6 separate regions of the Homo sapiens genome follow, and all the other regions are reported to be linked to region 6. The links are microRNA targets in miRTarBase. Many come from high-throughput screens and were not tested one by one. Region 6 holds a microRNA gene; each other region holds the end of a gene's coding sequence.
Evidence for each region. The annotated mature microRNA hsa-miR-4692 reads UCAGGCAGUGUGGGUAUCAGAU and lies in region 6 at 1,859-1,880, shown strand. An mRNA with a match to its seed (bases 2 to 7 or 8) in the 3' UTR can be bound and repressed. Matches are read on the target gene's strand: a 7mer-m8 pairs with bases 2 to 8, a 7mer-A1 pairs with bases 2 to 7 and ends in A, and an 8mer does both.

Region 1: the mRNA of NNT is a reported target of hsa-miR-4692. Seed matches in the 3' UTR shown: 7mer-m8 at 1,690-1,696 and 7mer-A1 at 1,224-1,230.
Region 2: the mRNA of AGXT2 is a reported target of hsa-miR-4692. The part of its 3' UTR that is shown has no 7-base or 8-base seed match.
Region 3: miRTarBase lists DTX2 as a target of hsa-miR-4692. Seed matches in the 3' UTR shown: 7mer-m8 at 3,424-3,430.
Region 4: miRTarBase lists TNFAIP8L3 as a target of hsa-miR-4692. Seed matches in the 3' UTR shown: 7mer-m8 at 2,025-2,031, 7mer-m8 at 2,029-2,035 and 7mer-A1 at 2,368-2,374.
Region 5: the mRNA of DDA1 is a reported target of hsa-miR-4692. Seed matches in the 3' UTR shown: 7mer-m8 at 3,987-3,993, 7mer-m8 at 3,884-3,890, 7mer-m8 at 3,033-3,039, 7mer-m8 at 2,763-2,769, 7mer-m8 at 2,293-2,299 and 7mer-m8 at 2,104-2,110.

Annotation. Positions count from the first base shown.
Region 1 is chr5:43,703,979-43,706,978 of GRCh38, reverse strand. It overlaps NNT (nicotinamide nucleotide transhydrogenase), which reads right to left. Exons shown (of 22, transcript NM_182977.3): 22 at 1-2,724. The coding sequence ends at 2,575. Among named protein-coding and RNA genes, the nearest start is that of NNT-AS1, 100 kb to the right of the region's middle. RefSeq lists an enhancer at 643-812.
Region 2 is chr5:34,994,794-35,000,266 of GRCh38, forward strand. It overlaps AGXT2 (alanine--glyoxylate aminotransferase 2), which reads right to left. Exons shown (of 14, transcript NM_031900.4): 14 at 3,309-4,033. The coding sequence ends at 3,926. Among named protein-coding and RNA genes, the nearest start is that of AGXT2, 50 kb to the right of the region's middle.
Region 3 is chr7:76,503,703-76,509,175 of GRCh38, reverse strand. It overlaps DTX2 (deltex E3 ubiquitin ligase 2), which reads right to left. Exons shown (of 11, transcript NM_001102594.3): 10 at 4,731-4,820; 11 at 3,185-3,802. The coding sequence ends at 3,575. LOC124901675 (a long non-coding RNA gene) reads left to right here. Exons shown (of 2, transcript XR_007060388.1): 2 at 1-995. Among named protein-coding and RNA genes, the nearest start is that of UPK3B, 4.1 kb to the left of the region's middle. RefSeq lists a silencer at 37-242.
Region 4 is chr15:51,054,043-51,059,515 of GRCh38, reverse strand. It overlaps TNFAIP8L3 (TNF alpha induced protein 8 like 3), which reads left to right. Exons shown (of 2, transcript NM_001311175.2): 2 at 1,073-2,915. The coding sequence ends at 1,635. The region is part of intron 1 of MIR4713HG (MIR4713 host gene); the gene reads right to left. Among named protein-coding and RNA genes, the nearest start is that of MIR4713HG, 19 kb to the right of the region's middle.
Region 5 is chr19:17,319,158-17,324,452 of GRCh38, reverse strand. DDA1 (DET1 and DDB1 associated 1) reads right to left here. Exons shown (of 5, transcript NM_024050.6): 5 at 1,155-4,907. The coding sequence ends at 4,797. It overlaps ANO8 (anoctamin 8), which reads left to right. Exons shown (of 18, transcript NM_020959.3): 18 at 569-1,230. The coding sequence ends at 936. Among named protein-coding and RNA genes, the nearest start is that of DDA1, 12 kb to the right of the region's middle. RefSeq lists enhancers at 1-102, 890-939, 2,481-3,097.
Region 6 is chr11:72,781,708-72,786,829 of GRCh38, forward strand. MIR4692 (microRNA 4692) reads left to right here and starts at 1,823; the gene lies at 1,823-1,885. The region is part of intron 1 of STARD10 (StAR related lipid transfer domain containing 10); the gene reads right to left. RefSeq lists silencers at 164-283, 4,754-5,089 and enhancers at 632-1,334, 4,386-5,122.

The DNA.
Region 1 (3,000 bases), not on the chromosome of region 6:
CCCACCCCATGACAGGCCCTGGTGTGTGGTGTTCCCCACCTTGTGTCCAAGTGTTCTCATTGTTCAATTCCCACCTATGAGTGAGAACATGCAGTGTTTGGTTTTCTGTCCTTGCAATAGTTTGCTCAGAATGATGGTTTCCAGCTTTATCCATGTCCCTACAAAGGACATGAACTCATCCTTTTTTATGGCTGCATAGTATTCCATGGTGTATATGTGCACATTTTCTTAATCAAGTCTATCATTGATGGACATTTGGGTTGGTTCCAAGTCTTTGCTATTGTGAATAGTGCTGCAATAAACATACGTGTGCATGTGTCTTTATAGCAGCATGATTTATAATCCTTTGGGTATATACCCAGTAATGGGATTTATATACATTTTTTGCTTAGATGAGTAATTTAAACACAAACTCCTAATTTAAGACAAATGAGAAAATAAAGGATAGTTAACAAGCCCTTAAAGACAAATCAACATTAGCATTTCACTACCTACAGATAATTTTTTTTTTTTGGTGACAGACTATAAGGTACAATAAATTTTTTTAATTATTTATACTTAAATATCATAAAGATATAGTGAATAATACAAAAATAAAATAAGTCATATCTACCAATTGTATGACTTATTGGAAAAAGAGGAATAATGAAATAGAATGTATAAAAATCATTTTTGTTGTTTTTAGATTTTTGCCATAATTTATAATCTAAGTCCACTAACCTTTTGGAATATTAATTTAAGAAATTATATATACAAAAATCCTTTAAATATCCTAACCAATAAAGTAAAATAAAATGAACAGGGCATGAATTTTCAATTCATTTAACACAATTGATGACAAAGGATTGGCAAATAGCAAAGAATAAGATAATACTAAATAAAAATATATATAAATTAAAATTTTTACTATGACAAAAATAAATAAAATCCAAGTATGATTATTTTTAGTTTAAACTGAGTGCAGGAACTACCTTTTCAAGAAATCAAAATTGCTTCTTTCTAGATATAACTACAACTACTTTGAGAGAAGAAAAAGGGCAGGAATAAAGATGGTGTTTACTTTCTTCTAATAGAATATACATGGTATAATTCAGCCCTGAGTTTACTAGTGATCTAAGATCAATTAACAAATTGCATTTATCACTTAAAACTTTTAAAAAAGTCTTTTCTGCTTTAACACACAAACGCACACACACACACACACACATACACAGATCTTAATCTCAGGCACAGCAAAATAGAAACTGATTATAAAACCAAAAGATACTGTGTGTTTTAAACTCACTAAACGCGAGCATTACAGTAACAAAATTTGTACTACTTCTTTTTCTGGTTTAGAGATTGTCTTTCATGTGTTAATAATTTTTTGAGAAACTTAGTACCAAACTAATTATATAGAGAGACAAATAATCTGAGTATTCATCACACATTCACCTATATTTAGAGCTTTAGGCACGATAGCAAAGTCACAAAGAAAATCTACACTTCTATAAAAAGACATGATCTTTACTGGTGCTTAAATGAACAAAGAGGTAGCTAAAAAAAGCCACCATTTCTCTCAAATGTCATCAATTACATAAGACCTCAAAACACACACTGATTTGAAAAAAAATCCATCCGTATTATAAACAGTGAAGACAGATTAATGTCATCTATTTCATAGTAGCAGGTCTTCCTTGATATTTGTAACAGGCAGAAATATTTGATTTTACTCTTTTGTCACCAGAGATAATTGCCACATCACTTGCCAACATGATGAACTCATTTTATTAGTCAAATGTTGAATTCCACTCAAGTGCACTTAATATAGTACTACACATTATAAGTTGATCGAAATTAAAGAGATCTCCAATTAGAAATGGGATCTTCAAAAATACTATTACTAATTTTCAAGTTGTATGTTTCATTGGTATTCTAATGAAACATATAAAGCAAATGATTTGTTTCCAGCATCTCTGAAAGATTATTTAGTCCTTTAATGTATTAAAATAGTAGTGAGAAAATGTGCCCTTGAAATATAGACTCTGAAGTACAATTTAAAAAATTAAAACTGATTTGATATGATTAATTCAAACTGCGGTTGAATTGCAAGGGGACAGCTCAGAAGTTCATAAAAGTTTCAAATTAGTCACATTTGTTGAAAAAAAAAACATAAAATGCAGGTGCCTGCAATGTTTACATTGTGTCAGATATTTCAGAGCCATGTATAATGTTGTCTTGAAATCCTAAACACTTAGTTTTTTAAAACATTTCTGGTTACTGAGGAGGCATAAAAAATCCAACAGGACTACATCTAAAATGAGGCTGTTCTTTCTCCTTTTATAAAATACTTTTGATTCCTAACACAAAAAATATGCACAGAAAGACATTTAGAATTTTCAATCCTTTTTTAAAATTGAGGGATTACTGCTTTTGAAAAATCTCTCTATACAGTTTTTGCTTTGCTTTCTTCAGTCTTCATTTTCTCCAAGAGCTTTGCTACAGATGTACATCACCATGTATACTGATACTTTATTTGCCTGTTCCCAAAACTGCAGAGGTGGCATTATTAGCTAACAGCTTGATCCTTAATATTTACTTCTGATAGGATTCTCTAACTTTCGCCTGGAGCGCGTCACATGTTTTCTTGGCATCACCTAGAAGCATGGCCGTGTTAGGTTTGTAGAAGATTGGATTGTCCACTGCAGCATAGCCAACACCCAAAGACCTCTTCATAACAATCACCTGAGAACCAGAGATTAAATGAGAGAGTGTATTTAACAGACCAACCTAGGACATGTTAGGCAAACAAACATTGCTCTTCACTACCTTTGAACAAGGCATGTACCACTACTAATTCTTTAGTGCAGGGACTTTAAAAATACACAAGAAATATTTTTAACATATGTTTACATTGTATTAACTTTAATACTTAAGTGTGCCCTTATTCTTATATCCATTAGAGAAAAAGTCATGTTAATAATTTATCTCTGAGTGATAAGATTACAATTATTTTCTTCT
Region 2 (5,473 bases), not on the chromosome of region 6:
CTACTTCCTGGAGAGGATGTCCTGGCACTAGCAAGGATCTTGGCCAGAGACATTTGTTGTTGTTGTTACTGGTTTTAAGTTTGAGTTTCATTGTTTCCTCTTCATATTTTACTAAATTCATAAATTGTGTTTTCAGTGTTCTTCCCTTTTCCTTTATCTTAGAGGAAAAGGAATGTTGGAAGTAGAGGGCTCTGAAGAAGAACTGGAAAGTAAGTGTTGACTTTCTTGTTCAATCTCCTTGACCCTGTAATTTTCACTGGCAAAGAGAAGAACATTCCAGGCAGAGTGAACTACAGAAGCAAAGAACTAAGGTGCATGACATGGAAAGAATGGTGGAAATAAATCTCAAAAAGCTTGTTTGGAGACAAATTGTGAAGGCTCTGGAATGCCATAATAATTGGAGTTTGGACTTTGTTCTCTGGGCAATAGGAAACCCCAAATGCTTCAAGAGACAAGAGACATGATCATATTTATTTGTTAAGTAAAGGACTTTGGTATCAATGTAGAGGAAGGATGGGAAGAGGTCCAGGATACCAGTTAGAAGGCAGTTTAAATAGTTCAGGGAGATGATGGTCCAAATTAAGGCAGTTTTGGTATAAATGGGTCATACTGGAAAAAATTATGTCAGAGAAGGTATTCATGAGACTTAGTCATATAAAGGGCAGAAAGATAACTTGGGGGAAAAATGATCTAAATCATTATGAGCCTGAGATTAAAAGGGTACCATTAATAAAGAAGGGATTCTTGGAGGAGGTATTTAGTAGAGTTTGTGTTAAGTCTGTTGAATTTGAAGTGTTCCTGTGACATCTAAATGACAGAGTCCAGAGAGCTAGAATTTTGGGGTTAGAGCTCAGAAAAACGGTTGAGACTAGAGATAAATATTTGGAAGTCTTCAGCATAGTCAAGATAGGTGAAATTTCAGAAGTGGACAAGGTTGCCTATAGGGAGAGAGTATAGCATGGAAGAAGAGACAGCTCAGGACGGAACGTTATAGTTGAGGAGTTGCCAGAAAAGAGGCTGAGAAAGCCATCCGAGATAGAAGGACCACACTGCAGAAGCTAACGAAGGAAGTAGCAATTGTTCAGAAAGACCGTTTAAAGGAAACATTAAGTTTCGATTATAAAGAAGTCACCAGGTGCCTTCTGAAAAGGCATTTCCAAGGAATGAGAAACAGGAATGAAATCCTAGTGGTTGGGGCTTGGGTAGGAGGCAAAGACGTATAAGTGAGGCACAAAAACTGCTCTTGAGAAAGATTTTGTAGTGAAGGAAAGAGGAGAAATGTGGCTTGAAAGGAAGAAGTTTCTATTTCTCTAGGTCATTGGTTTGCAAAGCACTTTTACATCCACGGGGTCACTTTATTTCCAAGGCAACTCTGGAAGGTAGGAAGGGCAAATAGTTTATACTCTTGGGAACAAACCGAGGTTAAAAAGAAGTTAAAAGGCTGGCCCAAAGTCAATTATAGCAAATAAGGGGAAGAACTGGATTTAGAATTCAGGTCATTTGACTCTTATTCCAATGATCTTTCTACTGTGCCCAAACAGAACATTTCTAGAGTATTTGCTCTATTTGGATATTGGATACTAGGCAGCATTGAGCTCCTTGTTAAAGGGTTTTGACCTCGTCTGGGGTTAATGGCAAGCTGCTGGAAGGTTTTATGCCAGGGAATGCTATGTTTCAGTTAATGCTTAATGGAAACAAATCTGGCAGTGAGGTGTAGGATGTGTCAGCAGAACAGACACCTGGTGGTGGGGGGGTTAGAAAATGAGGACAATTAGCTTCAAACAGAAACACAACTTTTGATACGCATTCAATCACATGCTGAGAAAGTGATTTCCCTTCAGGTCTCCAGACCCTATTCTATTTGTATTCTTCAAGAGAAGGTCTCAGTTTGCCAGTGTATTTTTAACATGTTTCAAATACCCTCTCTCTCTCTTTTTTTTTTGAGACAGACCCAGGCTGGAGTGCAATGGCACGATCTCCGCTCACTGCAACCACCGCCTCCTTGTCCGCAAACAAGCTTTTTGAGCTTTGTTTCCACCATTCTTTCCATGTCATGCACCTTAGTTCTTTGCTTCTATAGTTCACTCTGCCTGGAATGTTCTTCTTCTCCTCTTTACTGGTGACAATTACAGGGTCAGGGACATTGAACAAGAAAGTCAATACTTACTTTCCAGTTCTTCTTCAGAGCCCTCTACTTCCAACATTCCTTTTCCTTTAAGATAACGGAAAAGGGAGGAACACTGAAAACACAATTTAGGAATTTAGTAAAATATGAAAAGGAAACAATAAAACTCAAACTTAAACCTCCCGAGTAGCTGGGATTACAGGTATGCGCCACCACACCTGGCTAATTTTTGTATTTGTAGTAGAGACAGGGTTTCACCACGTTGGCCAGGCTGGTCTTGAACTCCTGAGCTCAAGTGATCCGCCTGCCTTGACCTTCCAAAGTGCTGGGATTACAGGCATGAGCCACCTCACCTGGCATTTTGAGTACTCTCTAATCTCCCTTTTGAACAAAGAAAGAACAGGACTCAGGCTGAGAATCTTTGCAAAAACTTGCATCTTGCTAAAACTGAATTACATTGTTTTCTGTTCACTCTGTTTTTATGGTTACTTTCTACTTACGACAAGTAGGATTGATTTATCATTTATTGTAATTACAGAAAGTTTACTACACATCTTGGTAAAAAAAGTCAAATTGGCTGGCTGAGGTGGCTCACGCCTGTAATCCCAGCACTTTGGGAGGCCGAGGCAGGCAGATCACGAGGTCAGGAGATTGAGACCTTCCTGGCTCAATCTCTACAGTGAAACCCCATCTCTACTAAAAATACAAAAAATTAGCTGGGCGTGGTGGTGGGCACCTGTAGTCCCAACTACTAGGGAGGCTGAGGCAGGAGAATGGCCTGAACCCGGGAGGCAGAGCTTGCAGTGAGCTGAGATCGCACCACTGCACTCCAGCCTGGGCGACAGAGGGAGACTCCGTCTCAAAAAAAAAAAAAAAAAAAAAAAAGTCAAATTAAGGAAAAATAAACCTAAGACAAATGGTGTGCCTCTATGGAGAAATTATATAACTGTGTATTCTAATGACTAAAGTTTGGGAAATTATGGTCTTGGAGAGTATTGCAATAGGAGTAATAAGGGTTCAGACCACAGTGGGATGTGGTAGTAGGTAAGGACCAGAAAAGAAGGCTCTGACAGATGTTTTAAGGGAGTTAAAGGAGAGGGAACTTGTTCTTTCTTTGGGAGTATTTTCTGCCTCATTTCTCAGTATGCTTTTGACCGTAACAGTGAAAAATAAAAAAGCCTTATACAGAACAATGAATTTATTACCTCAAATATCAAGAGGCCCTGAGGTAGGGTGGCTCCAGGAATGCTTAAGTGAGTGCTTCTTTGACATCACTAAGCACTTGGCTTCCATCCATCTTCCAACCTCACCAAAAAGGGTTGTCCTCATGACTACAAGCCGGCTGACATGGTGCCAGGAATCTCGTCATGAACATATGGTGTTCTCAGCGCAACAAGAAGACATCTCTTCTTGAACTGAAGAGTGAGGGTGAAGAAAACTTTCCCTGAAGGCACCTCCACCAAAAGATTTTTCTTCAAGATTCACTGGACAAAAATACATCACATATTCATGCATAAACCAATCACTGCAAAGGGGAATCAAATTACCATACCTAACATAAACTAATTAGGATTTATTCTCTGAGCTAGGGAGATCCTTTCCCTGAAGAATGGAGTTCTCAAGATAAGAGGGGCTCTGCTAACAAATATGGTTGGTAGGCAGTCAACCATGACTTTTACAGCTCCTGTGGAGAGCTGCAGGCTTTCTCTGGATACCAGTGGTTCTGAAATTCTTCAAATTCACCCTTGAACATACGTGGCAAATTCTTGAGACTTGTGGTTTTATTTATTTCTGACAATGTTACTTAGCTCTTCTTTCCATGTGTTGGGTTAAGGCAGAACGAAATACTTCTACTGCAAAATCAACTTCTGGTTTAGTGATGCACATTGAGGGCGCAATGCGAAATGTCTGAGGAGACACCAAAAAATAAGAAAACAAATCATCAGAGAATCAAATATGACTTTGAGGAAATGCACTAAACTAAAAATCCAAAACCTTGTGTTTAGGATGTTTCTCATGTTTCTCTCAGTTTGGTTCCTCCTCCATCCCCAATGCTGAATCCAGGCCATTCACCCTCCAGTCTCCATACAAACCCTTGTACAATTTGGCTCTGCCCCTTTTCCTTTTTGTCATACATTTACCTCCTGGTCATTCTACACCTTCACTGAAGTCTTAGGCCCCTCGCTATACTCCATTTCTGCCCAGGGTGACTTCCATGTCCATATGTGCAACCCAGCAAACTCACTTCTCACTGCCCTTATTGCCACAACTCCCAGAATCTTTATGTCCACCCTTCTGCAACCATTCATACCCATGGCCAATGCCATGAGCCTCCTCTTCACCAGGAACAACTCAATTTCTGATTCCCACTACAGCTTTCCTTTTCATGAAGACTTCAGAATCCTCATTCACCCATTGTTTTCAGGTCTATTGCTCCACTCAGGTCTCCTCCTTCCTTTCTACCCAGCTCAGAACGCAGAGTTGAATGAAGTAGGCTCACACTTGCCCCTCATTTTGCTTGCATTTCTACCCTTTTTCTGCTGCACCCACACCACAGCCAATCCCAGCGCTAATGAAATATTTTATTGAATGGCTTTTTTCTAATCTAGATGGCTGAGAAGAGTTAGAGAAAAATCACACAGCTAGGCTGAGTGATGCCGCTAGATATTCAGGGTCTCCAACTTCTGTGGGTCACCCCAACTTTTCTTGTTCATTGTCAGCGTCCTTTCTCAATCTAAACCTTTATCATTCCTCTCAATTTCCTTACTCAACTCCTGCGCCTCTCCCTCTATTTCATAGACAATCATGCCTCATACTTCTCAGAAAATTGAAGCTGCCACGCAAGACAAACTTGTTTGCTCTCACATCCATTTTTATAAACTTTCCTAAAGGCTCAGAGAACAAGGTGTATTTGCTGTTCAACTCCAAATTGTCCACCTATGCCCTTGACCCTGGATTCTCCCATCTCCTTCACTCCAGGAAACGCCCCTTCAACTTCCCCTTAGCCTATAAACAAGCAGGCTTAAAGCTCTCATAACCCCAATCTAGACCACACCAAATACAAATCTTTGTTGACCCCCTTGTCCCCTATGGCTACCTCGCAAATGCTTTCTTCCTGCTTTTAGCCACATCACTAAAAAGACTGGTTGGTGCTTATTGGCCATTATTTATTACTTTGCCCTTCCCCCATTCACATCTCAATTGGTTGCAGTCTGACTTCTGCCTCATCAACCACTCTACTAAAGTTACCTGCAAGTGTGGAATCCACTGGTCATCTTCCAGCCCTCATTCTCTCTGGCCTTCTCTGCACTTGACTCTTTGGAATTCCCCCACTTCCTGAACCTCTCC
Region 3 (5,473 bases), not on the chromosome of region 6:
TTTTTATAGAAACAGGATCTTGCTATGTTGCCCAGGCTGATCTCTAACTCCTGGGAGGATCAAGCAAATCTCCTGCCTTGGCCTCCTAAAGTATTGGGATTACAGGCGTGAGCCACCGTGCCTGGCTATTTTTTTTTTTTTTTGAGACATGGAGTCTCACCCTGTCGCCCAGGCTGGAGTGCAATGGCGTGATCTCTGCTCACTGCAACCTCCACCTCCTGGGTTCAAGCAATTCTTCTGCCTCAGCCTCCCTAGTAGCTGGGACTACAGGCACCTACCACCATGCCCAGCTAATTTTTGTATTTTTAGTAGAGATGAGGTTTCACCAACTTGGCCAGGCTGGTCTCGAACGCCTGACCTCGCGATCTACCTGCCTTGGCCTCCCAAAGTGCTGGGATTACAGGCATGAGCCACTGCGCCCAGCTGCTAATTTTTAAAAATATAGTTTTTGAGGCTGGGTGTAGTGACTTACGGCGGTAATCCCAGCACTTTGGGAGGCCGAGGTGGGCAGGTCACTTGAGGTCATGAGTTCGAGACCAGCCTGGCGAACATGGTGAAACCCTGTCTCGACTAAAATTACAAAAATTAGCCGGGTGTGGTGGAACGTGCTTGTAATCCCAAGTACTCGGGAGGCTGAGGCAGGAGAATGACTTGAACCCGGGAGGCGGAGGTTGCAGTGAGCTGAGATCGCACCACCGCACTACAGCGTGGATGACAGAGTGAGACTCTGTCTCAAAAAAAATATAATAAAAATATATTTCTTGTAGAGACAGGGTCTCACTGTGTTGCCCAGCCTGGTCTTGAACTCCTGGCTCAAGGGATCCTCCTGCCTCAGCCTCCCAAAGTGCCCAGATTACAGGCATGAGCCACAGCGCCCAACAGCTTTTAGTATATCAACAAGGTTGTGCAACCATCACCAATTCCAGAACCTTCTTACTTCCCCAAAACGAAACACTACACCCATTAAACGGTAACTCTCCATTCTCCCGTCCCCAGTGACGACTAAGCTACTTCTTGTTTCCATGGTTTTGCCCGTAATGGACATTTCATAGGATGCAGTCACACAACATGTGACCTTTTGTGTCTGGCTTTTGTTACTTTTTCAAGGTTCCTCCTCGACTGTGATTGCTTCATTCCTTTTCACAGTTGAGTAATATTCCATCCTGTGAACGTATCACACTTTCATTCATCAGTGGATGCAGAATTTGTTTTTTTCCACTGTGGGGCTACTGTAAATAATGCTGCCATGAGCATCCGTGCGCAGGCTTCTGTGGGCACATTTTCAATTCTCTTGAGAATGTACCTAGGAGTGGAACTGTGGTCATATGCTAATGCTGCTTTCTGAGGTTCTGTTTGCCAAAGTGGCTGCATTTTACATTCCCAGTAGCAGTGGATGAGGGTCCCATTTCTCGACATCCTCTCCAACACTGCTTTTTGTTTTAGTATAGCCATCGTAATGGGTGTAGTGTGGCATCTCATGGTTTTGTTTTTATATATATTTTTTGAGACGGAGTCTTGCTCTGTCGCCAGGCTGGAGTACAGTGGCGTGATCTCGGCTCACTGCAACCTCTGCCTTCCGGGTTCAAGCAATTCTCCTGCCTCAGCCTCCCAAGTTAGCTGGAATTGTAGGTGCACACCACCATGCCCAGCTAATTTTTGTATTTTTAGTAGAGGGGGTTTCACCACGTTGGCCAGGCTGGTCTCGAACTCCTGACCTTGTGATCCTCCCGCCTCAGCCTCCCAAAGTGCTGGGATGACAGGCCTGAGCCACTGTACCCGGCCAACACTGGGGTCTTCTAGAGAGACCTCACTACCCTTTTTACCCTGGACCAACTTACCATTAGGCACAGTGCCCTGGGCCCACACTATAAGAGCTGACATACATTTTTAATTTCTTTTAAAATCAGAAGGGAAAAAAATGAACCTTTAGGTGAGAGAAAATCCTCTAGTATACATTAATATATTCATCTTTATACCAACATGTTGTAAAATAGGTTTAACAGAGAAAGGGGCTCACCAAGGCCAAAGTGCCTCTGCTTTCCACAGCCATGAATGAGGTGGCCCTACCGTCCCCCTCTGGTCCCAGGCCCAAACTACTCCTCCCGGACAAGCAGCAAGATCTTGACTGGGGATATCTGATCCTCCTTCCAAGAGGAGGAAGAATTAGAACTTTGAGAATGGTGTCAGATCAACCCTGGCCTGGATTCCACCTACCTAGCCAAGCATTCAATCTGTCTCTTTTTATTATGATTTTACAGATGGGATCTTGCTCTGTTGCCCAGGCTGGAGTGCAGTGGTGCAATCATAGCTCACTGCAGCCTTGAGCTCCTGGGCTCAAGCGATCCTCCCGCCTCAGCCTCCCGACCGCTGGGACTACAGACAGGTGCCACCATGCCTGGCTTATTTATTTATTTTTTTGAGACGGAATCTCGCTCTGTGGCTCAGGCTGGAGTGCAGTGGCACGACCTTGGCTCACTGCAACCTCCACCTCCCAGGTTCGAATGATTCTCCTGCCTCAGCCTTCTGAGTAGCTGGGATTACAGCTGCATGCCACCACGCCTGGCTAATTTTCGTATTTTCAGTAGAGACGATGTTTTGCCATGTTGGCCAAGCTGGTCTCAAATTCCTGACCTCAGGTGATCCACCTGTCTCAGCCTCCCAAAAGTGCTAGGATTAGAGGCGTGAGCCACTGCACCTGGCCTAATTTTTTTTTTAGAGATGAGGTCTTGCAATTTTGCTCAGGCTGGTCTCAAATGTCTGGACTACAGTGAGCCTCCTGTCTCGACCTTCTGAGCAGCTGGGATAACAGGCATGCGTCACCATGCCTGGTTCAAGTCATTGCACCTTTGAACCTGTTTCCACATCAGTAAAACAGAGACAGCAGCTCCAATCCTAAGTGAATGGCATTTTGTGAACCACAACCCCAGGGCCACAAAGGTGACAGCTGGTGCTCTGGGGTGACAGCCTCTGGCATGGCAGGGAGATCAGTGTAGGGCATGTGGAGGCCGCACAGCCCAGTACCGTGGGCTCCTCCATGCCTGGCTGTGGCCTGTTCTTCAGTTATCAAATGGGAGCCGATGAGCCCATGGAACCCCCTCTTGCTCTGATGCAGGAAGTGGGGGGGGGCACACACACACACAAGTGCGCACACACGCATGCATGCACACACTCAGGACCTGCTGGCTTTGGCTATAGAGCATTTATTGCAAACAAAATTGAGGTAAAAGAAGCTGACCCAGAACCCACGCCCGTCCAGGCTGGGGAAGTCTCTACTCGCCCCACACCAGGCCCCGAGCACCGCGGGCCCGAAGCAGCCCCCAGAGGACAGACGGGCCCTGCGCACTGAGGTAGCTGCATCCTAAGCCCCCATGAGTACAACTGCCCAGGGCTGCCCAATTCCCAGAGGGGAGGAGGAGAGAGAGGCAGGCAGGGGGAGCCCCGGCTTCAGGTGGGGCACACCCCACACCCTCAACAAACCTCCCAGCCTCTCGGGCTGGGCACTTCCTGCCTGGCCACCCAGCCAGCCATGGGGCAGCGGGGTGGCCACCAGAGGCGGGCGTGCTGGGGTGCGAGGTCACTGCTGCTCCAGGCAGTCCTCGGTCACCCCCTGGGCAGCCAGCTCAGCCAGCACGTTCTGCAGGTAGTTGGGGTCGGGATAGCCGTGGCCCGTAATGTTGCGGTCCATCTCTGTCTTGTGGTGGATCTCGTTCCATACCACGGTGTCCGTCTCACCCGTGGTGCTGGACGTGCCCACTGTGAAGATGAGCCGCCTCTTCCAGGCCACCTTCAGGAGCTCTAGGACCTGCCCGGGGAGGAGGAGGGGGAAGAGGAAGGAGGGGACGGAGAGTGAGAGGGGCTCAGTGAGCAGGCACGGGTTGGCACCATGTTCTTCCCATCCCAGCCCCTCCCAGGTGACTCATCCACTCCCTGGCACTCACCCCATCTGCAGGGACCCCAAAACTGCCCACTGGATAGTACATTAGGATCCCACATGAACCTGGGCTCCAGCCCACCCCGCCTCAGTGCCTGGCACTGCCATCCGTTTGGTCCTGATGCCCAGGCACCATGCTCGAGTCCTCCCTGCTTCCACAGCCGTTGCTGGACGAGCGCCCGCCCACCCACCCTCCCTGGTGGAATCCAGGCCTCCCTGCCCTCTCCCTGCCCTCTCCCCGCCTCCAGCTCCGCCACCTCAAGCCCATTCTCACACGGCCAGAGCTTTTCCAAAGCTCCATCAGCAGCTCCACCTCCGTGGCTTCGCTGGGCGCTCAGAACCAGCTCTACCCCTGGTGCTGGCCTGGGGGGCACCCTGTCTTCACACCCACACCACGGGCTCCCACTATCCTGCCTTCCTGGAAGGCTCGTCCCCAACCTTCTCTGCAGCCACAAAGTCCCTATTCATGTCTCAGTGCAGACACCACTGCTCCAGCCTTCCGTGGTCACCTGGTCTAACACAGCCCCCGGTCCCTGCCTGTCACACTCTGACTCTCAGGAGCTCCTGACCCCACCCGGCAGGGTGCTGGAAGGTGATGGCCTCTCCTCCTCCCTCGAGGCTATGTGAGGTCCAGGCTGCCCTCCCTGTACCTACAGCAGGTCCCCAGAAAAGAGCAGCAGACACTCGGCCCGGCCTCAGCCTCTGTCCTCCGCTGCAGAAGCAGAGTCCAGTGTGGCGCCTGGCCTCCTGCCGCCTGGTCAGGGCCCCGTCCACCCCCCGGGCGCATGGTGGCACTCACCTTGCGGCCCTGGGCGTTGTCTGGAAGGTAGCACTGGCGGGGAAACCCTCTGGCAGTGAACGGCTTTCCGGGATTGGGGTGCTCAGGGCCCTGCGGGAGGAACAGACACCAGGATAGGGTGCTCCGAGAGCCCGCACAGGGACAGGCCCCTGCACAGCTCCAGCTCCTCCCCCGCTCCGAGATGCCAACCCCGAATGTTCCTGAATTTCCCTCTGAGCTGTGGAGAAGTGGAGGGAAACCAGGGGAAAGGCTCATGGTTCAACAAGACAAAAAGATGCCTCCATCCACCACAGGTGGACCTTGGCTGGCAGCCAGTGCCCGCTGCCTGCTGCCCCGTTATCTTCCCACCCTGCCCCAGGCCCTACGATCCACCTTGGCTCAAGACAGGAGACCGAAAGGGCTAGGGCCCGTCTGAGTCTCCTCTGGGACTCTGGGGCCTTGTGCCTGGGCTCCTGACACCCACACGCCTGGCCCTGCCACTCCCAACCCAAGGTTCCTCGACGCACACCCTGCTGTGGCCCCGCTTCTCCAGCCCCTCCGCAGGGTTCCTCCCACTGAACTGCCTGCCCTTCTGCCCAGAACAAGTCCAGCTAAGATGGCTCCTCCTCTAGGAAGGCTTCCTTGGTTCAGGAAAGAGTGGAGGGCCAGCCTTTTGCTGCCACAGCCCTAAGAGCTTACCCTAAGCCCCGGCACTGCCTCCCCATTCCCGGCCCTCCATGGCTCTGGCCTTAGGGGACCTGGGG
Region 4 (5,473 bases), not on the chromosome of region 6:
CATTTCAGATGTCAGCTCCAGCTAATTGGTGGCCTTGTAGAGTATTTCATCAAATCAAAACACCATCAATTGTAAGATGCCATTTTATGTGTTCTTAAGAAAAAAATACGCTATAAATTATGAACCATTTCTTTCTTATTAGTTAGAATTTTTATTTATACTTATTGAAAGAGGCTTTTTAGACTTCTTTGCATATAATATTGTGGATTTTTTTAAACATATATTGCTCTCATTCATTCATAAAGTAGAAAATAACAGCAAAATAAATTGGGTCTGGTTTTCCTAAGCTGCTTCACCTTCAGAGTACTACTCATCTCTAGCATCTTTGATTTGGAGTTACTGATGTCTGTGTTCCCACAGTACAACTCTCTATGCCATCAAGAGTATTCAGGAGGCAACATTTCTTACAAAAATTTCTCTTGACTTTCTCCCAAATCTCTGACAACTTTTGTGTAAATTGATGTGCACACAGGTAATAACAACCACAGCACAACAGCTACCTGGCAACAGTAACTGAAAGACCCATCCAATTTTCAATATTTCAAAAGCAAAAGAATACCTCTTAGACCCAATGATATGTGGGTTCTGAGACTCAGTCAAAATGACTGTCATGATCAACTATCCATGTCTGCCCTGGGAATGGGGTTGACAATGGGGCTACATTCGTGCCATTAAGCAATAATTTGCTCCTGTATAGTTTGCAAAGCTGAATGGTTTCCAGCGTGACAGCAGTGGTAGAGTGTTCTCTGTGAGCTAGTAGAATCAGGAAGGCTTTATGAATGAAGTAGGTTTAAAAAGGTAAGATTTGGCCTGGATAAGAGGAGATGACCTCCAGCAGAGGAAGGAGCATAAGCACAGTTTAGAGGATTAAAAAGGGTAAACAAAGCATATCATGTGGAGAGGAAAGTGGGGGAACCAGGCTGGGGTGGGGTTTAGTTAGGGAGCGAGGGAATATAAAGACATGAGTTTTTGCTCTAAGAACATAAGTTCAAGTTAGTGTGTTTTACTTGTGGAAAAGTAACAGACAGTTCTTATATTTCTAAAACTTTTATATATATTTTTTTTACCATAGGTCCTGATGTTTTTAGTTCAAAGAGTCTTGCGCTTCAAGCCCAGAAGAAGATTCTGAGCAAAATAGCCAGCAAAACTGTGGCCAACATGTTGATTGATGACACCAGCAGCGAGATCTTTGATGAGCTCTACAAAGTCACCAAAGAGCACACACACAACAAGAAGGAAGCCCACAAGATCATGAAAGACTTAATCAAGGTGGCGATCAAAATCGGGATCCTCTACCGGAACAACCAGTTTAGCCAAGAGGAGCTGGTTATTGTGGAGAAGTTCCGGAAGAAGCTGAACCAGACCGCCATGACCATTGTCAGCTTCTATGAGGTGGAATACACCTTCGATAGGAACGTGCTCTCCAATCTCCTGCATGAGTGCAAGGACCTGGTGCATGAACTGGTGCAGCGGCACCTGACGCCCAGGACCCACGGGCGCATCAACCACGTCTTTAACCACTTTGCCGATGTGGAGTTCCTCTCCACCCTCTATAGTCTGGATGGAGACTGTAGGCCCAACCTCAAGAGGATTTGTGAAGGAATCAATAAGTTGCTAGATGAGAAAGTCCTTTAAATGCCTTCCCTCCTACTGGACTTTGCTGCTTTAAAGTTACAGCACTCAACCATGATCTGGGTGAGAATCAAGAACATAAGCAGAAACCCTTGTCAAAGATGTCCATGTTCTTTCCTGTTCATCCCTCTGATGCTGATTCTGATGCTGAACTGAGCTCAGGTGTGTTTTTCTTCCAAGCTTTCTAGCAAGGTTTCTACTTAAAATCACCTGTGTGCAAGCCCAAAGGACATTTCATCTATTCTAAGCAGAAAGGCTGTTTTGTTCATTACAGTGAGTGCTGTTCATCTCATGGAGTGGGAGGAGCACTAAACCAGGAGACAGAGGACATGGATTTGGTTTCCAGCTTAACCAGTTAGGACTCTGTCCTCTGCATTCTGGAACCATGATGCCTGCCTGCCTGCCTCACAGGGCTGTTGTGAGGACCAGATGAGATGATGTATGTTCATACTTTTGGAATCTCTAATTTAAAGTCTTAATATTTTGTCTTCTGAGTGTGAGGGGATAAACCTGGATGTAGACTATTAAGCAGCATAGGAGAAAAGAACAATAGAATCTAATGGACTGGGTTTGCAATCTCTCTCTAAATGCACTGCTTCAGACAAAGTGAAATCCAAAGGTGTGAAAAAGTATAGCTGCAAATTGGAAAAATGTGTTTCAAGAGTCGTCTTTTTGGCCAGGCATGGTGGCTCACACCTGTAATCCCAGCACTTTGGGAGGCCGAGGTGGGCAGATTGCCTGAGGTCCGGAGTTCAAGATCAGCCTGGCCAACATGATGAAACCCTATCTCTACTAAAATTACAAAAATTAGCCAGGCGTGGTGGTACACGCCTGTAATCCCAGCTACTCAGGAGGCTGAGGCAGGAGAATTGTTTGAACCTGGGAGATGGAGGCTGCAGTGAGCTGAGATCACGCCACTGTACTCCAGCCTGGGCAACAGAGCAAGACTCTGTCTCTAAAAAATAATAATAATAATAATAATTTTTTTAAAAAGAGGTGTTTTTGAGGTCTTAGATGTTCAGGTTGATGATCCTGCAGAGGGAAACTTTCCATGGGGGGGTGGGGAGAGAGAGTTTTCCATCCACAATATAGAAACAGAGAAGCACTGTGCTCCCTCTGCAGGACCAGCCTTCCCTTATCTAAGGGGCATGGAGCTCAGGGAGGCTTTATTCCATATGCACGGGAGAATCAGGCAGAATGAACCCCTACCCATCTTTCTTGGCTTTTCAGTCATTTTGTGCTGTTTTCTCTGGTTCATTAATAAATTGAAACTGCCCTCCAAACAAGAGATCTTAGAGTTGTGATTCAAAATAAAATTCCTTGGAGTTAAATACAGTGTTAAGAATAACAGGATTGAAAAGAAGAAGAAAATGAAGAGCAAGAGTTCTGCACTCGAACCCCAAGAGGAGGTAGATTCAGGGGAGCACAAGTGGGTGGATCTGTGAGATGGTCAGTGGGGAGCTAGTCCACAGACACAAACCACCTTCTCCAAATGTCACAGCCTTGCTTTCACAGTGCAGCTTCTGACATCTTTTCATCATAGTCTTAACCAACGTCAGCAACAATGTACTTCCTTTCAACACTGTGCCACATTAAGAGACTTGCTCCTCTTGCCTTTCCTTCCATCCTCCTCTGCTTCTCTTCTAATGATAATATAAAAATACCATACTAGCACAGCCCTATGGTTCATCCCACCCCACAGTCTATCTCCAGCAGGAGCATCAAGAGATGGTTTGTGGGGAGGTGTGAAACAATGTCCACTGAGCCTCGCTGGCCATTCAGCCTCAGCTGGCTCTCATGTCAACATCATAGCAAACCATCTAGTTACGTTCTTCAGCCACGCAGCCAGAATTAGTTCATAGGAAGGCTATTCAGTATGGAATATGGAGGAGTAAGGCCAACCCCTGTTCTCCATATTGGACAAACATGGCCTAGCCCTCTACTCAAACCCAAGGGCTGAACAATGATGCCCTGTGCACACCTGGGCTGGGGAGATGGCTGGTCATTTGGCACTGCTGGTGGGAACTACAGGCAGTTGGCTCCCCTTCCTTCCCACCTGCCTGCAAGGCACCAGTCCAGCAGTGCTGGATTTTCTCATGCTGTCTTCAAGGTTTGCCTTGATGTATTTATCTGACAAAAGACTGTTTTCTTGTTCAAAAGATGGTTCTAGAAGTAGGTTCACTGTTCATTAAGTGGACCATTACAGAGAACTCGGACCCAAGAGGAATGAGTGAACTTGTCTTCTGTCCGTGTGAGATACAGTGGGGAAGAAAGCAGGATCCTCAGCTAAAGAAGGTGTTGGGTTCTCTCCTGGCTCTGCAGGCCACAGCACAACAATGGTGTAGGAAGAAGGCTGAGTTGGGTTCTGACAGCCCACAAGTCTCTAAGGAAACTGGGTCCTTTCTGCTTTGGTCAAGGAAGGATCAGCACCTCCACCAGTGAATCTCACCAAGTGCAATGGCAGAGTGTGGACCAAAACATTTTCTGTTACCTTAGGCTCTCCGCTGAGGGAGCCAGTGGGCTGTCTACCTAAGACCCCCAGATTTAGCAGCAGCAACCAGTGGGGATCTGGGCTACCTGGGCACAAGAACTCCTCTAAAAATACAAAGCCAAAACCAATCCCATGTGCACATTTCAAACATACGATTTGCATCTAAATCAAGTGATTCTTGAATTTCATCAAGCAGCTGAAAGGCCTACAAATTTCAAATATTTTACATAACAGTCTAGTGACCAAAGCTAGCTTCTCATTATACAGTCCTATTGGTTTATCCTAAGTACTCTAACCACATCACCTGGTGGCCCTGAAAGGCTGTTTTGGCTGAAAAAAATGTGACAGAGGCCAGCAGATGCTTTGGAAAGCAGGACTCTAGATGTGAATTTGTGCTCAGAGCTCTGTACAAAACTCTCAATATGAGAACCCACAAAAGCAGAGTTAGAATAGCTACATTTTTAGGTCCCCAATAACAAACATATCATTTTGCAAAGTGATGGGAAAGTAATTTCAAAAGAAGCAATGGTACAAGATGGCTCAATTGATCTAGCCCCACACAGACTTCAGACAGCAATGCCTGATTCAGCAAACCAGGTAGGGGTGTGACATTCTTTAAGGCTGAGGAGTGGCAGGAGCAGCTTGCATCAGTCATCTGGAAACATCACTGGGTCTTCAACCATCCCTGAACACTCAGCTCTGTCCCCACAGGAGGACACCAGGGACTTGTGCTGAAATCCTCATCAAGCCCTTTTGTGCGTGTCCTTCCTCATATATCTGAGCCCTGCAGAAACACATTCCCTGCCAGCTGCCACCTGCCATGTGTCTGTACCACTCTTCTCTGTGTTTGCATCTGTGGGTCTTGACACCCTCAGTAACTCCAGGTCTCTGCTCAGTGACAAAATGAAAAGACTTCTCCATCTGTGCTTCTTCAAACTCTCATCTCTCCCATCTGTACATTTTATAGAATCAAATCAGTACATTCATTGGCTGCTCCAATGAACTTATTGCATCCATTTATATTTTAAAAAAGAAAAGAGCTCAAATCAGGCCTATGTGCCCTCTGTCCCAATATCTTTTTTTAATTTTTTTACTTTTTAGAGATAAGGTCTTCCTCTGTCACCCAGGTTGGAGTGTAGTGGCATGATCACAGCTCACTGAAGCCTCAAACTCCTGGGCTCAAGCAATCCTCCTGCCTAAACTTCCCGAGTAGCTGGGACTACAGGTATGCACCACCACGCCTGGCTAATTTTTTTTTTTTTCTGGTAGAGACGGGGGTCTCGCTATGTTGCCCAAGGTGGTCTCCAACTCCTAGCCTTAAGCAATCCTCCCACTTCATCCTCCCAAAGA
Region 5 (5,295 bases), not on the chromosome of region 6:
CCACCATGCTCCGGTGCCAGGAGAGATGAGGGAGGCCTGTTTCCCAACCAGCCCACCCTTCTCCTGCTCCAGCTCACTCTTGGGGGGGACTTGACCCCCCAGGCCTCTATGCAAATCCACACCCTGCAGCCCAGCTGTTCAGGAAGGCCTTCCTCGAGGTGGGGCTGGGGCTGCCCACCCAGGGAGCTCCCACATGTGCTGAGCAGAGGTGCAGGCCTCACCCCTACCCTCCCACCCCCACCACCTCCCCTGCCCCAATCCCAGCCTGGGCTCCAGCAACCCCATTCCCAGGGAGCCCAACAGGTGGCAGCTGCAGCACAAGGGCCATAGGTCAGAAGCCAGAGGGACTTCCTCAAACTGTCCTCCCCCTGTGACCGGCAGGGCCGTGCCCAGAGGCAGGGTATGCACCGGAAGCCGCCCAGGGGGCCGCCCCACCTCAGTCTCTGATCAGAAGCAATAAGGCCTTTATGTGCCTGGATGCCCGGGAGGGAGCGCGGGCAGGGTTGCCAGCCCGGCGGGGTCCGGCGGGGGCGGCATCCCCCCGGAACGGCCCCTCTCGCCTCCGCAGGGACAGCGCTGGCCCCCGTGGGCGCCCCTGCCCTCCGCACCCGCCGCAGCCGGAGCCCCGCGCCGCCGCCGCCAATGCCGCTGCCCCGGCCCCCGACACCGCCCGCAGGCTGCTGGCAGTGGGACGGGCCCTGGGGCTGCGGGGGCGAGGGTGCCGCCCCCCGCCAGGCCCTGGCCGCTGCCGAGTGCCCACCCTGTGCCATGGCCGGGCCCCCACCCGCCCCCCAGCCCCTGCCGGGAGACGCCAGCTTTTACAGCCTCCCGCCCCCACCGCTACCGCCCACCTCGGATCCCCTCGAGACCCCAGCGCCCTCCCCTAGCCCCAGCCCCAGCCCCCAGGCCGTGTGCTGGCCCAGCGGCTGGCATTAGCTCTACCCGCCCTGCCTTCTCTTCTCATATGCAATATCAGTCATTCACAGGGGCGGCCGGTCTCCAAAATGCAAAATGCGCTTCAGCCCCCGAGGGCCCCCAGTATTGGTCGGTGCCCCCCATCTGCCGTTTTCCTTTCCAAACGAAAGGAAACCCACAAATCCAACAGAAAACACACACACACACACACACACACACACACACAGAACAGGCGATTATTTATTTGTTTTTAATTTATTTTGTCATATTTTTGTAAAACGGCAGAAATGCAATAAAAACTATATTTCAACAGTGCCCGAGGTCAGAGCAGTGGAAAAGGGAGTGGGGGTGGGGGAGTCTGGGTGGCTGGGGCCTAGGTTGGGAACCCCCTCCCCCCATCCTGGTACAGGCTGGCTTGACCCATGAGGGCCTCCTCCCAAAAACTGGGTCTTGGCCACAGATGGAAAACTCCAGGCTGCGCCGCCTCTGAGACGGCCCAGATTTGGAGGCCAACTTCAGCCCTGGCTTCAGCCACTAGACAAAGGAAGGAATCTCTAAGTGCTGAAAAGAGGCGACAATGTGTGCACAGGCCCCAGTCCTGAGTAAGACTCCTTCTCAAAGAGGACAGCGCGGTGGTTTGCAAGACGTGGCCCCTTCTGGCACACCCGCCTCCTGGAACATCGTCTGGGGAGCCAGAGACAGTGGGAAGAGCTTGTGGCATGAACATCAGAAGGCACCTGGCACCTGAGCCTCCTGCAGTCCCCGACTTGTGATACTGAGAGAATGGCACATTTGGGTGTCCCCAGGACACGGGGTGGCATTGGGATGCAGCAGGGATGTCCCACTGTGGGACAGACATCAGACCCAAGTCACTGGGACTCTGTCGTATGACTCAGGAACAGGAACGTGGCCTCTCAGACCCTCACATTTTTCAGGAAGAGGACAAATGTGTCCACATCCAAAGGCTTAAGGCTCAGAGACCAACATGGCCATGCTGCAGGGCTGGGCCAGTGTGAGCAAGGGGCCCTTTGGGAGGCTGTGGAGAAGTCAGAGTTCACTGGAGGCAGGAGAACAGCCTGTGCAAAGGCGGAGAAGGTGGAAGGCAGTTTGGGGGAACAGTGGGGTAAAGGGGACCCCAAAGGCAGGAGGGGTAGACAGAGGCCGGCTCAGGGGCCCAGCGTCCTCCCACAGGCAGTGGGAGCTACACAGGGTGTGTGTGCCAGGTGGGGCATGTCCCGACAGACCCAGGGGTTCTAGGGGGAGGCCACAGGGAGGCAAGCTGGGGCACAGCCCTCAGACCCCAAAGGAGGGAGCTGAGGTAGGGGAGGGGAAGGAGGTGCCCGCCCAGCAGCCCTGCAGAGCGACGGGCAGACAGCACAGGCAGGAGACAGCCCCCAGCCACTCAAAGCAGAAACTGGGAGCCAGAGAGGTCTAGACAGGCCGAGGGGAAAGGCGGGAGTGCCCCCTGCTCCCACTCTGGCCCCTGGCCTTGGAAGCTGAAGTCCCACCATCTCAGTCATTCACAGATGGACACCGCAGGCCTGCCCAGGTCACACCAACCCTGGGGACTGGGACTCCCCAGCTGGCCTGGGAGCCTCCAGGGCATTCAGCCGGACCCGGCACCATCGACCGCAGTCAAGTGTGCATTTCCTGACCACCTGTCCTGTGACCACATGGCCCCTGTAGCACCATCACTGTGGTGTAGACACTGCCGGGAGCTGGGAGGTACAGCAGGGTGGCTGTGCTGTGCCTGGGCCTGGTCAGCCACTCCTTGTGTAGGACGGGAGCCCACCCTGGCACTCTCCGTCCTTGGGAGAGATGGGCCGCCTAGGCCCGAGGGTCTGACACAGGCAGGGCCCTCCACAGTGGAATCTGGGGCAGGCGGACCCTCCATAGCCCGGAGTGTCTGCTAGCTCTGTGGCCCAACCCTACACCATCCCAACGCCCTCAGACTCAGCTCTCAAAACAGAGACCTCTGCCAGGCACGGTGGTTCACGTCTGTAACCCCAGCACTTTGGGAGGCTGAGGAAGGTGGATGACTTGAGCCCAGGAGTTTGAGACCAGCCTGGGCAACATGGTGAAACCCTGTCTCTACAAAAAATTTTTAAAATATTAGCCAGGCAGCCAGGTGCGGTCACAGCACTTTGGGAGGCCGAGGCAGGCGAAGCACCTGAGGTCAGGAGTTCGAGACCAGCCTGGCCAACATGACAAAACGCCGTCTCCACTAAAAATAGAAAAATTAGCTGGGTGTAGGGGCGCACGCGTGTAATCCCAGCTACTCAGGAGGCTGAGGTAGGAGAATCACTTGAACCTGGGAGGCAGAGGTTGTAGTGAGCTGAGATCTTGCCACTGCACTCCAGCCTGGGAGACACAGCGAGACTCCATCTCAAAAAAAAAAAAAAATTAGCCAGGCATGGTGGTGGGTGCCTGTGGTCCCAGCGGCTTGGAAGGCTGAGGTGGGAGGAAGGCTTGAGGTCGAGGCTGCAGTGAGCTGTGATTACGCCACTGCACTCCAGCCTGGGAAAGAGTACAAGACCCCAACTCAAACAAACAAACAAAACAAAACAAAAGAAAACTGAGATCCCCACCACCACCAGTGGGGGCAATAAGGGGAGAAGCGGTGTTCCCCCAGCCCCAGGCTCAGTGGTCAGGGCCACAAACCTTCTGCCCAGAGCCCGAACACCCCTACATACCCAAGCTCAGCCCCAAACCCAGCCCAGCTGGCGGAAGAGGGGTCCCCATGAGCGGCCATGGCACATGCCAACTGCCAGGTGCCAACCTTCTGTACAGCTCCTCTATGACCCAGCAAGGGTGAGGCCACCACCTAGGACAGCAAGACCGGCCAGATGCCGTCTGTACTGTCACCATGCCTCAGGGGAGCAGCAGAGGCCAGAGACCCCAGGCCCCCGGATGAGGCCGGCCATCTCTGCGGTGTCTGACAGGTGCGCTGCCCTGCTTGGCGGTATCCCAGGCAGGGGGCTGACCCCGCTCCATCCTTGGCACCATGGACCGTCTCTCAGGAATGACCTGTCCTTGGGGTCACCTTGACAGGAGAGGCAGAGGGGATGGTCCAGGCAGGTCTTGGCCTTGAACATGGTGGCCTCAGCAAGCCCACGAGAGAATCCAGCCGGTCCTGGGGCCCCTGGCGTGGGGGGCCCTTCTCACTCCTCTTGGTGACAACAGGGATGACTCCCAGGGGCTCCGTCCTCTGCAGCCAAGGTGTGTGGAGCAAAGACGCGAGGTCAAGTAGGAAAGACCCTTTTATTGGGGTGGACACGGAGCACGCACTAGTCCATGATAAAAATAAAATGACTCAAGAGAAAGATCCCAAGGGCCGACTTCTCCCCAACGTGCGTGCACGCTGAGTGAGGCCTGGGCATGGGAAAGTTCCGGGCGAAGCGTGGGACAAGACCGAGTCTCAATGGCCTGGACCGGTGTTGGGGGGGAGAAGGCCACTCGGCTGTCCTGGTAGGTCAGGCCACCCCGGGCCCGCCCCTGTCGCCCGGCCACAGTAAAGCCCCCGCTAGAGACTCTCACAGACACACTCTGGTTCTCTGGAGAACTGGGGGCAGGAATCGGGGAACTGGCCCGATGGAAGGCGGGGGTCGGGGGGACAATGTTGTTTTTTTTAAAAAGCATCTACCAACATCACACTACTGGGTCTGATGTCCCCTTTAACCAACGCTTGATACAGGTTACAGCATAAATAAAAACTCAAGGAAAATAAATACATCGGCTCCTATGAGGTTGGAAGTGGTGTGGACGCAGGGTGTGGATGGGCCGGCAGGGAGGCGGGCGGGCGGGGTGCTTACACATGGCGGGCAGGCGGGTGGGCGACCGAGGAGCAGACCTGGCAGGAGGCGCCTGTGGAGTTGAGAGTCTTAAGTGTCCTCGTGCATGTCTGGGCTGTCGGTCCGCGCCACCTTGCGGGGAGGTGCGGAGCTCTCGCCTTCCAGCTCCACTTGCTCCTGGTCTCTCTTCTTGGCAGCGTTCTGGGGGACAGGGAAAAGAGAGGGGCTGTGAGTCTTTTTTTTCGGACAGCCTCAACCTTCTGGGCTCAAGCAATCCTCCCAGCTCAGCCTCTGGAGTAGCTAGGACTACAGGCACATACCACCACGCTTAATATTTTTACTTTTGGTAGACATGGGGGTTTCACTATGTTGCCCAGCTGGAGGCTGTGAGTCTTCACGTGGGTGAAGCTCCCAGAGTCATAATGCCAGCCCAGGCCCCTGCAGCAGCATCACAGAGGTAGGCCTGGAGTACAGTGGGGGGCCCCAGGGTCCCTGGCTAGGCAGCCCCTCCTACCACCAGGACCTGCCCCACTAAGCCCTGCCCAGAGCACTTTCTGGACCCATGCCTGGTGATAGACAGGTGTTTCCT
Region 6 (5,122 bases):
GCGCCGCCGCCGCAGCTGCCCGGGAGACCCGGGGCCGCGCGGGGGCTCTGGTGGGAGGAGCAGTGGGTCCCGCCGCCCGGCCCCGCCCCGGGCCCCAGCCCCGCGCGCCCCTCCCGGCTAGGCTGGGGGCTCGGGGGCTCGGGGGCTCGGCGGCCGCGGCTCGGGATTTTCCAGGCTGCGGAGGTGAAGCTGACGGATCTCCGAGCCCCGCCCCGCCCCACCCCGCAGGGTCCTAGCGCCCGCCCCCGCCGGCCCTGGGAGGGGACCCTGCGCGCGAGGGGCAAGTCCCCAGCGGGGACAGGGAAAGGGGTGAGGAGATGCCAAGACAGAGTGGGCTCTGCGAGGAAGGGCCACGAGGTGCAAGAAGAGGAATTCTGGAAGTTAACGGTGAACCCCTTCTCTCCACCACCTCCCATACTCACAGGTACACACCTCTGCAACAACCTACAGTATTTACACACAGGCACGCTGTCCCCAGAACAACCCAGAGACGCCCCCATGCAATACCCCAGAGATCCAAAGATGGGCACACACCCCCATGACAATCAAGAGACTAACTCGCAGGGATGACAGCCCCACAGCAGCTCAGAGATGCCCACAGCTTGCATCCCCCACCAAGCTAGAGGCACACCAAGCCTACACACACCCAACCCCATTCCCACTGGGCTGTGCAAACCCAGCAGGAAGCCGATCCAACCCACAAGGCTCAAGGTTCACAAGCTGGCCAGATGTGGGCAAAATCTCCACCCCAGTCTCACTCCTACCTGGGAGCTTGAACCGGGACTCCCTCCAGCCCCACACTCTGGCCCTTGTCCACCAGCACCCCTTCTCAGCATGCACACAACGCGCGTGTACACACACACACACATGCACGCACACACGCACACCTGCTATGGACTAGACTAGGCTCTCAAGAGCATCTGGCCCAGGGCTCTGGGCTCTCTTACCTCCCCAGGCAGAGTTGGCCAGAGCTCCATAGCTACCTGCACCAGCGCTCCTGCCATCCCTTCCAGCCAGGGAGGCTCCCCCCTGCCCCCTGGGTCCTAGTGCCAGCTCTTCCTCCATCTGCTCTGTGTGAACTGAGGCCAGTAGCTCAACTTCTCTGAGGCCAGGCCAGGGTGAGTGTGGCAGTCTGTCGCAGTGACTGTGGTGAGCTCCTCTGGATGAGCAACTAACAGGGCCCAACAAGAACCTGCCACGGTCATCCTGACCAGCACGCAGATCTCAGCCTCCTCCCACCTCCGTTCCTGTCTGTGCCCCGCTGCCTCCTCCTCTCTGGTCCTTAGTTTTCCATTTCCAGAAAAGGGAATCAGAATGGATAACCCTAAGGTGCCTCCTAGCCTCACCAGCCTAGAGCTCTAGGGTGGAACAGATTTTCTTAAATGTGCTAAGAAAAAAACGAGGAGTCGAGGATTTGTCACGGTGCTTCACAAATAGAGGTGTTTCTTCCTGAAGTGCTTAAAGCACTGAGATGTTTGTAAATTAGGCCACATTTTAAAAATGAGTGGGGGTGAGCGGGGAGCTATGATGGCAAGTGACCCTAAAGGGCATCCTGCAAAGTGAATCCTGGACAATGTGCTGCAGGTCCTCATGAGGCCTGTGTGAATGACCTTAGATCTCCAGGCCTTCCATCTGCAGTGTGGGAGGCACAGTCAGATAATCACCCCATCCCTTCTAAACCACACTCCTGAAAAGTGTCTGGGAATGAGTAGGTGGCAGGGGGCTGGCTCTGGGCTCAGGATGCCCAGGCTCTGATTCTCTGCTATCTACCTCCTCTGCCTCTAACTCTAGGCAGGTCACTGCCCCTCCCCAGGCCTCAGCAGTTTTACTTGATACCCACACTGCCTGGGTGGGACACTCAGGCAGTGTGGGTATCAGATAAAACCCAAAGGGGACCCCATTAGAGCCAAAGCCTGCTTTGCTTTGTGAACTGTATCCTCTTGGATCTGCCACGAGGAAAAGAGGTGGCAGCACTGGCCTGGTGGCTCCTGCCTTTTTAGGGCCCCAATAAAACACACCTCAGCAGATAGCAGGTACCAGGGCAGCAAACCTCTCATACCCACCATCCAGTCCAGGGTAAAAAAGACAAGGCCAGGAGGTAGCAGTGAGGGCAGACTGATAGAAGGACTTCCCCACCCTAGAGAGCTGCCAGAGAGATAAAAACTCAGAGAGGTGCAGATGGCAAGAATGAAACCATCACTCAGAGCCAAACACAGAAGAACCAAGAATCTTTTGGATCTTGGGTCAGTAAAGGTGGGCGACCTGGCAGGCAGCCAGGCCCTGGGCTCATCCCCTGGGTCCTAGGTTTAGGCCAGGCTACCTCGCCAGCAGGTGGGTAGAAGGGTATCACCTCATTCTACTCATCATTAATTTGCCCTTGCAAATGCCACCCCTCCCAGGAATTTCAGTATCTCTGGCTCTGGGTCTCATGAAAACCTCTCAAACGTGACAAAGCCCATTCATATCCTTCTCAAAACACCCCTAAGCAGCCGAGAAGGGCCCCATCTGCTCCAGAGCAGAAGAATGAGCCCAGGAGGGCTGGAGGGGCTCTGGGAGAGGAGTCTGGGGAGGACCCACAACCTAGCAGCACAAAGGGCCTGTGGAGCTGGGTTCAAATCCTGGCCCTCTGATTTCCTAGCTGTGTCACCAGAAGCCGGTGACAGGCCTTCTCTGAGCCCCAGTTTCCTCATCTGGAATAATAATACCTATCCTCTGAGAATTGTGGCAGGGAAAAGAGTTGTATATGTGCCAGTTTCACCCCCAGATAAGTAACTAAAAATATAACTGGTGGGGGTGACTGGGGCAGGGAGGAATACACTGTCCAAAAATGCATGGTTCCAACAAAAAGTGTTAAGGTAACATCTTTACATGATGGTTTGGCAAGTTTTGATTCTCATGGAAGATCAAACAATGGAAACAGCTTTGGCAAAGCATGACCCCTGCTCTGCCCACTGCAGTCCCCTGCCCCAGATATGGTCCCCTCCACAGGAAGTGAATTGAGATGTCTCTCTGAGCCCCGAGGCCAGAGTCCAGGTCTGGCTGCTCTCTGGGTCCCAGTTCCAGAATGGGGCATCACGGAGCAGGAGCCAGAGTGGGCATAGAAGGTGAGACTGTGTACGAGAAGGCGCTTGACAAACTGAGAAGCGGCGTGGGAATGTGAGGCATCATTACACAGGGCACTGGGCAGGCCTGGATCTCACACGTGCCCCTCGCAGACAGAGCAGCTGAGGTTGTGGGGGGCACGGGGCACCCCTGCATCACACAGCAAGTCAGAAGCCCTAAGGGGACTCCAGTAACTCAGGATTGATCTAGACTCCTGCAACCGGGGAAGGGAGCACTTGGAAAGAGTCACACCAGACTTTTTGTTCACTACCCCCTGATGGCTGTTGGGGGAGGGGTCAGGGCACCTGCCTGGAGCCAGCCACCCCATGACCTGGTCCCTAACACTCCCCTCAACTCCCCACAGCAGAACTAAAGACCCCTCAGACTAAGGGCATCTGGCCCCACCCCCTCCCTGTACAGATAGAGAAACAAAGATCCTACTAGCAGGGACAAAGCAGAAATAAGAACCTAGGGGCCGGGTGTGGTGGCTAACACCTGTAATCCCAGCACTTTGGGAGGCCGATACGGGTGGATCACCTGAGGTCAGGAGTTCAAGACCAGCCTGGCCAACATGGTGAAACCCCATCTCTACTAAAAATACAACAATTAGCCAGGTGTGGTGGCACGCACCTGGGAGCCTACTCGGGAGGCTGAGGCAGGAAAATCGCTTGAACCTGGGAGGCGGAGGTTGCAGTGAGCAGAGATTGGGCCACTGCACTCCAGCCTGGGTGACAGGGCGAGGCTCTGTCTCAAAAAAAAAAAAAAAAAAAAAAAAAAAGGGAATAAGAACCTGGGCCTCTCAGCTCCTAACCTGAGGGTCCTGTTCCTCCCACCCCGTATTACATACCACACCTTCCACTTGCCTGCCGGTGACCTTAACACGGTCACTGCCCTCTCTCAGCCTCAAGAGTCAGCCTCCCTCGGTGGCCCCCAACCTGCCCAGTGTCCTGGACAGTGAGGGGCCTGAAAGTCTAGCCTTGCTCCAGGATGCCCACCCCTACTCACCATCTAGTTCGACAGATGATGGCTGCCTTGATCTCCCCTCTGGGAGATGATAGGGTCCCACCCCTACCCCTTCTCCCCCACCCCCTCCTCAGGGGTAACCCTGCCTGCCAGTTTTGATGGAGCAAATTCACAGGTTGTGCAGGGCAACAAGGCAGTGTCCTGGCACTGTTCTAGAAGATTAGGCAGTGACCTGTGTGATGTCACCAGGAAGCAGTGACATGGAGGAGGAGTTCCAGAGACCCTCAGGGTGCAGCAGGCCGGGCGCGGTGGCTCACACCTGTAATCCCAGCACTTAGAGAAGCCAAAGCAGGCAGACTGCATGAGGCTAAGAGCTCAAGACCTGGCTGGGTAACATGGTGAAACCCCGTCTCTACTAAAAATTTAAAAATTAGCTGGGCGTGGTGGTGCACACCTGAGGTCTCAGCTAGTCAGAAGGCTGAGGCAAGAGGATGGCTTGAGCCCGGGAGATCAAGGCTGCAGTGAGCTGAGATGTTGCCACAGCACTCCAGCCTGGGTGACAGAGCAAGACTCTGTCTCCAGTTAAAAAAAAAAAGGAAAAAAAAGGTTCAGCACCAAGAACTCTGAGGCCCCCAGGGCTGGCTCGGCCTTGAGAGGGATGTGTCCTTCACAGTGGCGATAGGTGTTCCATCCCAGTCCCACCTGGAGCCGGATCTAAGTGTTTGCCCAGGGTGGGTCTCATACCTTGCTGGGCCTCACTGAGCAAACAGCTCACACCTGCCCTTAGGGAGCTGCTGGAGCCTCAGGGAGCCACACTGTAGTGCGCAGCCTCAAAGTCAGTGCAGGTCAGGGTCACCCCCACCTGCACTTCTCCTAATGTCCTGTCACAGTCCCATACAGAAACACTCCACCTTGGTATTACACAGGGCCAGACCTACACAGCTACACACACTTGATCATGCCAGGCCACACATGGCACCAAAGTGGAGTTGCCAGATAAAATACAGGACGACAGCCAGGTGCAGTGGCTCACACCTGTAATCACACCTATAATTCC